2 separate regions of the Homo sapiens genome follow, and region 2 is linked to region 1. Evidence: fine-mapped expression QTL. A gene starts in region 1. The other region holds a variant in brackets. All regions are shown on one strand. Distances are between the middles of the regions. Region 1 holds the start of GDPD5 (glycerophosphodiester phosphodiesterase domain containing 5). Region 2 overlaps GDPD5 (glycerophosphodiester phosphodiesterase domain containing 5).

Evidence for each region. PIP is the estimated chance that this variant, and not a neighbour inherited with it, causes the effect.
Region 2: its variant is the best candidate, but not a certain one, in a credible set for the expression of GDPD5 in whole blood (TOPMed, PIP 0.69).

What each region holds. Positions count from the first base shown.
Region 1 is chr11:75,522,877-75,528,244 of GRCh38, reverse strand. GDPD5 (glycerophosphodiester phosphodiesterase domain containing 5) reads left to right here and starts at 2,304. Exons shown (of 17, transcript NM_030792.8): 1 at 2,304-3,035. RefSeq lists silencers at 1,977-2,036, 2,087-2,606 and enhancers at 2,453-2,953, 4,881-4,930.
Region 2 is chr11:75,477,347-75,482,714 of GRCh38, reverse strand. GDPD5 (glycerophosphodiester phosphodiesterase domain containing 5) reads left to right here. Exons shown (of 17, transcript NM_030792.8): 3 at 4,920-5,096. The coding sequence starts at 4,980. Among named protein-coding and RNA genes, the nearest start is that of GDPD5, 46 kb to the left of the region's middle. The variant A/G (reference allele first, on the strand shown) is at 2,347.

The DNA.
Region 1 (5,368 bases):
GAGCCCAGACCAAAGGCAGGCAGCCTGGGGGAGTTCAGGAAGGCTTCTCGGAGGTGGTGATAAATCTTGGTGGAGATAAATCTTGATAAATCTCATGAGAGATGGGTCATTTATTCAACAATTGTTTACTTGGCACCTACTATGTGCCAGGCTCCGTGCTAGGCTCTGGGGATACAGCAGTGAAGAGAACAGATGAGCATTTGGCCTAGAGGTTCTGCCCTTCAGCCCAGCAGAGAAATGAGAATTAACTCCAGAGAGAAGGGGAACAGCAAAGCAACACATGGAGGAGACAACTGCATGGAGACAGAATGCATCCTGCTTGCTGATGGAGCTGAGAGAAGTTGGCGCAAGTAGAGAGGGAAGTAAGCAATGGGGAGATGAGGCTGGTGGAGTCAGCAGGCAGAGAGCAATAACAAAGGGGCTGGAACGCCAGGCTAGGGATGTAGGGCTTGGTCATGCTGGCAACCGGGAGCCAGAGAGGGCTCTGGACAGAGGGAAGGGCCACAAGGTTTCTTAGCGTCAAGTTCAACAAGTAAAGGCAAAACTGCCTTCTCCCAGCCCTCAGGCTCCAGAGACCAGTCCCAACTTCCTGGGCCCAACTTGCCTACTCCCAACCCCTGGGCCTGAAGAAGACAGGGCACCCTCAAGTCCGCAGCCTGAACTTCAGCCTCCAGCTCACCCTCTTCTTTGTTCTTCCAACCAGTCTCTCAGCCATAGTCTGATGCCATTTCTTTTGCAGGGAATGCCCATGCTTCACCCTCTGAAGCCTGCTGCCTGCCCAGTCCCTCACCTGGTTCCCTGCCAAGTAGCACCTTTATTCTTCTTTTATAGATGAGGAAACAGAGGCTCAGAGAGGGAGAGTAACCTGTTAAAGCCACACAGCTTTACCCTAGAATTTGATAATGATGGGTGGATAGAACTCTGTGCCAGCTGTGTGGTCTCGGGAACGTCACTTAGCCTCTCTGTGCTGAGTCCTCATCTGTGAAATGGGGTACCTATCACAACATAAGGTTGGTGTGAGGTTTACAAAGAGACTGTACTGTGCCACCAACATCCCTTAGCTCCCCAGGCCAGTTAGCGGCTTTCACATGGTCCCTACCCCACTCCCCCGCGGCACACATTCAACTTTCATTCATACATCAGTTCCCTCCAACACCTTCTCTGCGCCTGGTCCTGTGCACACACTGAAGACGGCTCCTTGGCCAAGCACAGGGCTCACACCTATAATCTCAGCACTTTGGGAGGTCGAGGCAGGAGGATCGCCGGAACCCAGGAGATCGAGACCAGCCTGGAAAACATAGGGAGACCCTGTCTCTACAAAAAATTTAAAAATTAGCCAGATGTGGTGGTGCACGCCTGTAGTCACAGCTACTCCGGAGGCACAGGTGGGAGGATCTCTTTAGCCTGGAAGTTCGAGGCTGCAGTGAGCCGTGATAGTGCCACTGCACTCCAGCCTGGGCCACAGAGCGGGACCCTGTCTCAAAATAAAATGAAATAGAAAATAAAGACGGCTCCTGCACCCAACGCGCGGGGTGGGAAGGGGCGGGAGCGGACTGCAGATGCATCACGATTCGAAGTGTGTGTCCTCACACAACTCTGCTCTTGAGTTCGTATTTTTAAAATTGACCACGACGCTCCTCCTCGGGGATGGGCGCAGGGAAGGGAGGCTTGTGGAAGACAAATTCGCTCATTTCCAAAAACTTATTTTTCACCGTTTCCTGAAATCTGAACACTTCCCAGCCCAACTCTCACCTCTGAGCGCCGAGCACTAGAAGCTAGGGAGAAGCAAGGTGTCGGTGGCATCCCACCACTCAGGAGGGCTCGCTCCAGCGTCCCTGGGACCCCTGACCCCGGATATCCTCCACCTTGCCTCGCCCCGGCTTCTTTTCCTACACTGGCCCCTGCTCCTTCCCCGTGACCCCCGCAATCCCCGCACAGCAGTCCCCATGCCCCCGTCCCAGGCAAGCCAGCCCTCTCGCCTCTCCCTCCTTCCGGGTCCCGAGGCCAACCCCCTCCCCGATTCGGCCCGTTCCGAACCCCCAGCCCCGCCATTGTCCTCTTGCAGCCGCACCTCTCCATTGTCCGCCCCGCCCTCTCCGAGGTAGAATCCGCTTTCCGCAGGGCGCCGCTCCGCTCCCACCCTCGGATTGGCTCCTGCGGCCCCACGCGCGAGGCCCGGGAAGGGGAGAGGGCGCGCACCCCGCCCCTGCCCGCAGCCGGCCGGGGGCGGGGTCTCTGCTGACTCCGCCCCGTCCGGGCGGGGCCGCGCAGGCTGGCGCTGGGGCGCTGGGCGGCGCTGTTTCGGCTGAGCTCGGGCTGCGGCTCCGGTGGGGGTGGGTGGCGGGGATGACAGCGGAGGTGGCAGCGGCGCGGCGCTGAGCGAGCGGCGAGGGAGCAGGGGAAGAGGAGGAAGTGGAGCCGCGGCCGGGAGCTCGGGAGTCGGCCGCCGCGCCGAGGTTCGCCCCGTTTTGCAGAGAGAGCCGAGTCGGGACCTGGAAAGACTTCCCCGCGGGGCTCCGGCCGCCGCGCCTCCCCGCCGGCGCCTGCCCTGCCCTGCCCGTCCCAGCCCCGCGGTTCGGGGCGTGCGGCCGGGACGCGCGGAGCCCCGGCCCTGACCCGCTGCGCCGGGACGGGACGCTCCTAACGCCGCCGTACCGGTCCGTGGTTGCAGGGTCGCTCCGCGCCTTTCCGTCAGTGAGGGTCGGAACCCCAGCTCCAGGGCTAGCGCAGTGTGGCCCCAGGCCCTCGCCTCCGGTGCACGGGACCCCGGACCCCCCCAGCCTCTGGCTTCACGAGACCCCAACCTTCAGTTGGAACAGCTTGGAACAGCGCGAGCGCCCGGGAAGCCCTGGCCGGGTCGTGCGCTCGGTGAGGGGTCCTAGGCGGGCAGGACAGTCGGACCGAACCGCCGGGCTGGTGCCGCGAGCCCAGGCTGTCACCTTCGTCCCGCCTCAGGTGAGGGGTTCAGCGCCTGCCCCGAAGATAACACAGGGGTCCCCTTCTGTCCCGGCGGCCTGCGAGAGCCAAGGCTGCAGGTGAGAGCCCCGGATGCGCGGCAGGAGCGGTCCCCGACCCCATCGCGGCAGCGCGGGGGCCAGCGGAGGGAGTGTCAGGGGAAACAAGCAGAGGCTGGAACTGGCTGGGAGGGGGCGCGGGAAGGGGAGGGGAAAGAAAGAAAACGGGTACTTATTGAGCGCCCATTGTGTGCGGGTTCGCGCCCTGCCCCGCCCCGCCCCGCCTAAGCCTCACTGCTACTCCTGAAATAGGTGTTGTGTATTATTATCGGCGCTTGCAGATGGAGAAACTGAGGCTTAACGGGGCTGAGTGACCTCCTTTCACTGCGGGGAGGAGACTGGGGAAGCGGGAGAGGATAGAGGGGGAAGAGGCAGAGCACTTGAGCGCTGATGCTAAAGCTGAGGAAGTGGCTTCTTCTTGCCTCCCGCTCCCTGGCCATGTCACCCGCGAGGAAAGGTGACTCAGAGTTGAGGGTAGAGGTGGGAAGCTTCCCAGTTCCAAAGCTTCTCTCCCTGTGGGCCCAGGATGTGAGAGCAGCAGCTCCTGGCCCTTGTGTGTCAGACTCCAGGGTCTCTAAGACACTCTGGAGGTCCTGAGACGTGCTTATCTGTTGGTGAATTCACTGCAGAGATCCCCAAGTAAGGGTCTGTCAGAGCTGGAGATGTAGCCCCTCTGGGGTGGCTGGAGATGTGGCTCACGTGACTCACCTCCCTCACATTACTAATGGGGACACTGAGGCCCACCCGAAGGGAGTGCCAGTTGTCCGATCCTAAAGCCAGTGAGTCCTTGAGCCACAAGTAGACTTGAGAAAACCTTCCTGAGCATCCTTCAAGGTATGCACACTCCTCCCCAGTTAGGATCTTCTGGATAGGTGGCTGGGGCTTTCCCTATCGCTGATGTGAGATCTGGGCGACCATGTATGAGGCTGTGGTGAGAATTAGTGTGGTTGGTTGCTGGGGCCCCGAGGAATGCCTGCAACCGCATTGCCTTTGGCCCAAATGGAAGGTCCAACCTCATTTTCTTCTGGGCAGGGGAACCTGCAGGATACCTCTGCCCAGGAAGGAAGGGACCTGCTCAAGGTCTCAAGGCTGGGGGCTCCCAGGGCTGGGGCACAGTCCCAGGTGTCTTTATTCCCAGGCAGGGGATGCTTCTGCTGCCCCCAAGGCATGTAGGGAGAGGGGTGTTGTGAAAGAGCCCTTGGCATGGACTCTGTGGGCTCTTATTCTGTGTGGGGACGGGGAGGGGATATGGCCTTGGTCTGGGCCCTGTGGCCTTGGCTAGGCCTAGTTAACCCTAGAGATGCCCAACTCCCTGGAGTCAAGGGGAAACCACCTTGGAAAGCCCCTGGAAGGTGGAGGAGCGTGGTGAGAGGTCTGTGGAAGTCTGAAGCTCAATCCCTGGGGGTGGAAGGGTTAGGGGATCCCAAAAGACAAGGTGACTGAGGGGCTTGGGATTCCCTCTACCCCAGACCTCTGTCTGGGGCTTCAAATCCTCGCAATAATCTCTATGTCTAAACAAAGCTCTTTGATGAAATAATTTCACACCTGTGATCTCCTTTCATGACGTGGAGAGAGCCTGGAACCTAGAGTGAAGCAGAGGAGGGTTGCAGAGTCACTTGTGACCTCTTGATGCATCCATGGTTCCAAGTGCCACTTTAAAATAGGTTATGGCAGGCTGTGTGTTACCTGCTCAGTTAGTGGGGCCATCACATCTGGCTGTCAAGTGCTAAGGGGCATGTTGTACTTGCCAAGACTGGGGAGGTTATTAATGGCCCAGTCTCGTGTGGGCAACTGAAGCTCAGAGAGGTAAAACCACTTCCCCAGGGCCTTTGAGTTTGCTTGTAGAACTGTTTGAGTGCCAGCTGCATACCAGGTGCCCTGGAAGTTACCCAGACGGGCTAAGCGGCAGCCTCGAGCCACAGTAACTGGTGAATCCCAGATAGTGGTAAATCAGACAGACCAGGTGGGCGTGAGTCTACTGTGCCTCCCACTAGCTGAGTGGCACTGAGCAAATCACTTCATCCCTCTGAGCCTATAAAATTAGAATACCTCCTTTAGCAGGTTGTTGCGAGGATTAAATGAGCTACAAAGATGCAGTGCCTGGCCAAATATCCGTTTCCATCCCTATGAAGAAAAGGAAGCTTGAAGTTTGACCAGGAAGTCTGGGGAAATTCTCAGACTTGTCTTCGATTAGAACGCAGGATATGGTTGCAGGGCAGGCTCAGAGACCTGAATTTGCTCAGCTCAGGCTGCTGTGTGGGTCACACTCCCCTAGTCTCATAGCCTCTAGAATCAGTCTGCTTGGGGACACCGGCAAGGGGCTCTGGATTCTTACCCCCTCCCTTGGCTTCCTG
Region 2 (5,368 bases), 46 kb after region 1:
ACCAGGTGAAGGGAAGCAAGGCTGGAAAAGCAGTAGTGGTCAGATCCCGGTCACTGCCTGTTAGGAAGTTCAGTCCAGCTGCAGGTAAGAGTTTGGATTGGAGGGATGGGGCTGAAAGCAAGGAATCTGGAGGAGTCCCCAGCCAGGGGAGATGAGGCCTTGAACAGGGGAGTGGCTGTGGGGATGGCGAGAAAAGGGCCTTGAGAAAAGGGTGGTAGAGGGCAGTGTGGCTGAACTGGGTCTGCAAGGCCTGGGTGACACCGCTGGAGACATCCAGGAGCTGCTGGCTATCTCGATCAGAGGCAGAGCCTGGGTGGCCTTGGCAGCACCTGGTAACTAAAGCCGTGAGAGTGGACAAGATGGCTGCAGCCAGGAGAGCATACAGAAGAGAAAGAAGAGGTTTGCCTCCCAGAGAATCCCCTACACTTATGAACAGGACAAAAATGCACCAGGGGGAGAGGAGACTCTGAGAGCCAGTATCAGCGAAGTTCTGGGCCGAGGCATGACGCATGCACTTCTACTTCCCTCTTTTCCAGGTTTGAAGTGGAATTTCCATTCCTGGGTGGGTTGTAATGTGCAGTCGTGGGGACAGGGGAGGGGCGGCAGAGGACATGTGGGAATTAGTCCCAGGGGCAGGGGGGTCCCGGGAAAGGAGTGTGAAGGCAGGGGAACCTGGGGCGGGCTCCCACGTGCATTGCAGGATGTCCACCTGTTGTACCTCAGCATTGCAGTACCTCCTGGCACTTTTCCCCCTCCCTGCCCCCAATTGTGTGTCCTATAGAAGTCAAGGCAGCAGCTGTTACCTGCTTTTACAGATTCAGAAACCAAGGCTCAGGGAAGAGCCTGAGTGGCCCCAGCCACAGAGCAAGTCAATGCGAGGCAGCATGAAGCTAGGCTTCTTTCCACATTGCACCCGCCTCCTCCCTTCCTGGGGAGGCGGGGGCAGATGTAGTGGCTGACATGACAGTAGAGAACCCTGTCTAGGGAGTGCACAGGGTGAGATCTGGCTCCCCTGGCTGTGGACCCTGGCCTCCCACCCCTGCGGGAAGGCTGGGAATGTGGGGGTGCCTATGTGGGCACGCAGCACTCCCCAAATCTGGAGTATAGTAAAGCTGAGAGCACCCTACACCAACCCCCACCCATGGTCTCTCTAGCCCCATGGGAGCCAAGCTGTGTCCCCACCCCAGCCTGTCCCCCAGGCCCTGGCTCAGGGAAGCCCCAGCAGCTGCACCATAGTCCACAGGCCTCCCCAGGGCTCCCCGGAACAGAGGCTGCAGCAGTCAATTCCCAGCACTCAGGAGACTCTGGGTCATTCAGTATTCCCAGCAAGCCCCTAATGCATCTTCCCCCTCAGACTGCAGGCTGTAATCTCCGCACTGAGGTGAAGTCAGCATTGGGTGGTGGTGTTGGAGGGATAGGCAGAGGCCCTGAGTGAGGCCTGGTGGTAGAAGTAGTGAGTGGGCCTGAAGCCCAGCGTGCTCCTACGGTGCAGCCCCTGGGGCCTTGGAGAGTGGCATCTTAGGAGCTCATCTACCAAGCCTTGGCTCAGTGCTGACTCCAGGGAGCATACTCTGACCCTCCCTGCACTTTGGTCAGTGCCCACAGGCTCCCTTTCCTCCCTCCATCATACACTGCACTTACCATAAGGCTCGTGGGCCATTAGAGCCCAGTCACTGTAGGAGTCTGCAAACTTTCCCTCTAAAGGGCCAGACAGTCAGTATTTTAGGCTTTGCAAGCCATATGGTCTCTGTGGCAACTACTCAACACTGCAGTTACAGTTAAAACAGCCGTAGACAATACATAAATGAATGAGCATGGCTGCGTCCAATGAAATGTTATTTATGGACACTGAAATTTGACTTTCATATAATTTTCATATGTCACAAGATATTTTTGTTTTGACTCTTCACAACCATTTAAAAACATAAAGACTATTCTTAGCTTTTGGGCTGTACAAAAATAGGTGGCAGATCAGATTTGGCAGGCCCATGGGTTAGAGCAAGGTCCCTGGAGCCAACCTGCGTGGGTATGAATCCTGGCTCTGCTGGGTGTCCTTTGGTAAGTGGGTCAACCTCTCTGTGCTTCAGAGTTCTCATCTATAAAATGGGGATGATGATGATGATACTTTGGGGATGTAACATGGTGCAGTCACATTGGAAAAGTTTGGCAGTTCCTCAAAAGGTTAAACATAAAAGTTACCATATGATCCAGGTGTGGCAGCACATACCCGTAGTCCCAGCAACGCAGGAGGATCACTTGAGCCCTGGAGTCTGAGGTGGCCATGAGCGATGATTGCACTACTGCACACCAGCTTGGGCAACAGAGCAAGACCTTATCTCAAAAACA[A/G]AAGTTACCATATGACACAGCAATTCTTTTTTTTTTTTTTTGAGATGGAGATTTGCCCTGTCACCCTGGCTGGAGTGCAGTGGTGCGATCTTGACAACCTCTGCCTCCCAGGTTTAAGCGATTTTCTTGCCTCAGCCTCCCGAGTAGCTGGGATTACAGGTGCCCACCACCATGCCCAGCTAATTTTTGTATTTTTAGTAGAGATGGGGTTTCACCATGTTAGTCAGGCTGGTCTCGAACTCCTGACCTCAAGTGATCCACCTGCCTTGGCTTCCCAAAGTGCTGTGACCAGCAATTCTATCCCAAAAGAAATGTGTACCCAAAAGAAATGAAAACACACGTTCACACAAAAAACTCATTCACAGAAGCATTATGTATAACAACCCAAAAGTGATAACAACCCATATGTCCATCAGCTGATCAATGGATAAACAAAATGTGGTAGATCCATACAACAGAATGTTAGACATAAAAAGGAATGAAATGCTGATCCATGCTACAACATGGATGAGCCTTGAGAACATTATGCCACGTGAAAGAAGCAAGACACAAAAGGTCACATATTGTATGATTCCATTTATACGAGGTCTCTAGAATAGGCAAGTCCATAGAGACAGAAAGTGGATGAGCAGTTGCCAGGGCCAGAGGAGTGAAGCCAGGGTAAATAGGGAGTTACAGTGCATGAGAAGGGGGTGGGGGGTTGTTGGGATGGTGAAACTGTTTTGGGATTAGATAGTGGTGATGGTTGTACAACTTGTGAATATACCAAAAATTGAATACTGTATATTAAATACTGAATTGTATACTTTAAAAGGGTAAATTTTATGGCATGTGAATTATATCTCCATTTTTTAAATGCAAATCCTTCCTTCCTTCCTAGGGCTGCTGTTATAGTTTCTGCATGGAAAGCACTTGGAACAATGCCTGGCTGTTCCCCTCTTTGGCCCTCTCAGGGCCCTAGGAGCCTTTGTGTGTCCTGCTCACATTGTCTCCAGGGCCTCGGACAGGGCCTGGTACAGAACATATGACTGAGTTTCTGGAGTCCCACAGGCCAGCGTTGGAGTCCTGACACCTCAGTATAGCTGTGCACCTCTGGGCAAATAGTTTCTCTGCTCTGAGCCCCAGGTTTGTCATCGGCAAAATGGAATAAGAATAACTCACAGTGGTGTGGAGGACTGGATGACACCTGATACTCAGGGTGTGTGAGGTGCCCCAAGCCCATTGCCACCTGGTCACACTTTACCAACACTGGCCCCCAGAGGCCGAGGCTCCCACAGATATCTCCAGGGTGCCAAGCAGGGCTGGGGCAGTAGCTTCTGGCAGCCACACTTCAACCCTCAAGACACCTCTTGCTGCTATACCATCCTCCCACAGGCCCCACCCGGTGAGGGAGCTCCCTGTGTCTGGAGAATGAATACTTTGGGGCACTAGAGCAGTTCCTAGATTGACTACAGTCCAGTTATGGGACAGCAGCCAGGCATTGCTCCTTGTTCTCTGAGCCTCAGTTTGTTGAACTGTCAAATGGGTTTAGGACACAGAACCTGCCACTTCAGATGGTTGTGCTGATGAGATGGAACAATGAATGTAAAGTATTTACACGGTGCCTGGTGTATTTTAAGTGCTCAACACATCTCAGCTTATATGATAATTTCTTCTAAAATGTTTATTTTGAAAGTCTGCTATGTGCTAGACACTGTTCAAGTTACTGGGAATACAGCAGAAAATACAACAGACAAAAATCCTTGCCTTCATGAAAACTGCATTATAGTAGGGTAGACAGACAGGAAAAATAAGCAAGTTATATTTAAGGACATGATTGAGAAAACAAAGCTGAGAATGTGGGAAGGAGCTTAGGGAATGTGGGAAGGGGCTACAGTTTTACAGAAGGTGATCTGGGACAGTCTCATTGAGTAAAGGACATGTGGCCAGGTGCCATGGCTCACGCCTGTCATCCCAGCACTTTGGGAGGCTGAGGCAGGTGGATAACCTGATGTCAGGAGTTCGAGACCAGCCTGGCCTACATGGCAAAACCCCAGCTCTACAAAAATACGAAAATTAGCCAGATGTGGTGGGCACCTGTAATCCCAGCTACTTGGGAGGCTGAGGCAAGAGAATTGCTTGAACCCAGGAGGCAGAGGTTGCAGTGAGCCGAGATTGTGCCACAGCACTCCAGCCTGGGTGACAGAGCAAGACTCTGTCTCAAAAAGAAAAGAAAAGGACATTTGAGCTAAGACCTGAAGAGAGGAGGGGAAAGAGAAGGAAGCCATGCAGGTTTCTAAGGGAAGAGCATTCCAGGCAGAGGGAACAGCAGCATGCTAGGCCAGTGAAGAACATGGAAGAGGTCAGGAGTGGCTGGAGGGGAAGGAGTAGGGAGGATGAGGGCCTGGGTGGGAGGCAGAGGACAGGTCCTTGGGGACCTGCAGGGGTGGGCCTGTGACTCCAAGTGAGACGGAGCCCCACTGCAGTGCTTTGAGCAGGGGTGACCCTCCCTGACCTAGGCTACAATGACTTGCTGTGTGGTGCCTGACTCCTCACCCTTCCCCTGCCTCACTGCCCTGTGCTTCCTCCTGCAGGACAAGCTGGGGGCCTCCATGGGCGCCTGAGGGCCAGGCGCCAGGGCCGTGGGCACGAGTATGGTGAGACACCAGCCCCTGCAGTACTACGAGCCACAGCTGTGCCTCTCCTGCCTCACGGGCATCTACGGCTGCCGTTGGAAGCGCTACCAGCGCTCCCATGATGATACCACACCGGTGAGCCACCCTGGAACAGGGTCAGAGGGACCCAGTGAGCCCCAGCAAGCCTGAGGGGCTGGGGGAGGGGTCTTAGCTCTGTCTCTGCTGACTCGCTCTGGACAGGCCAATGGCCTTTCTGGGTTTCAGTTTCTCCCTCTGTAAAATGGGCTTATAGTAATTCCTGAATCTACTGACCAGGAGGGCATGGAAGGAGTTTGTCCTGTTGACAAGTTGTTAACTCTCCTCTGACATTGTTGAGGTTGGGCTCCTCTAGAAGGGAAGGGTCACCC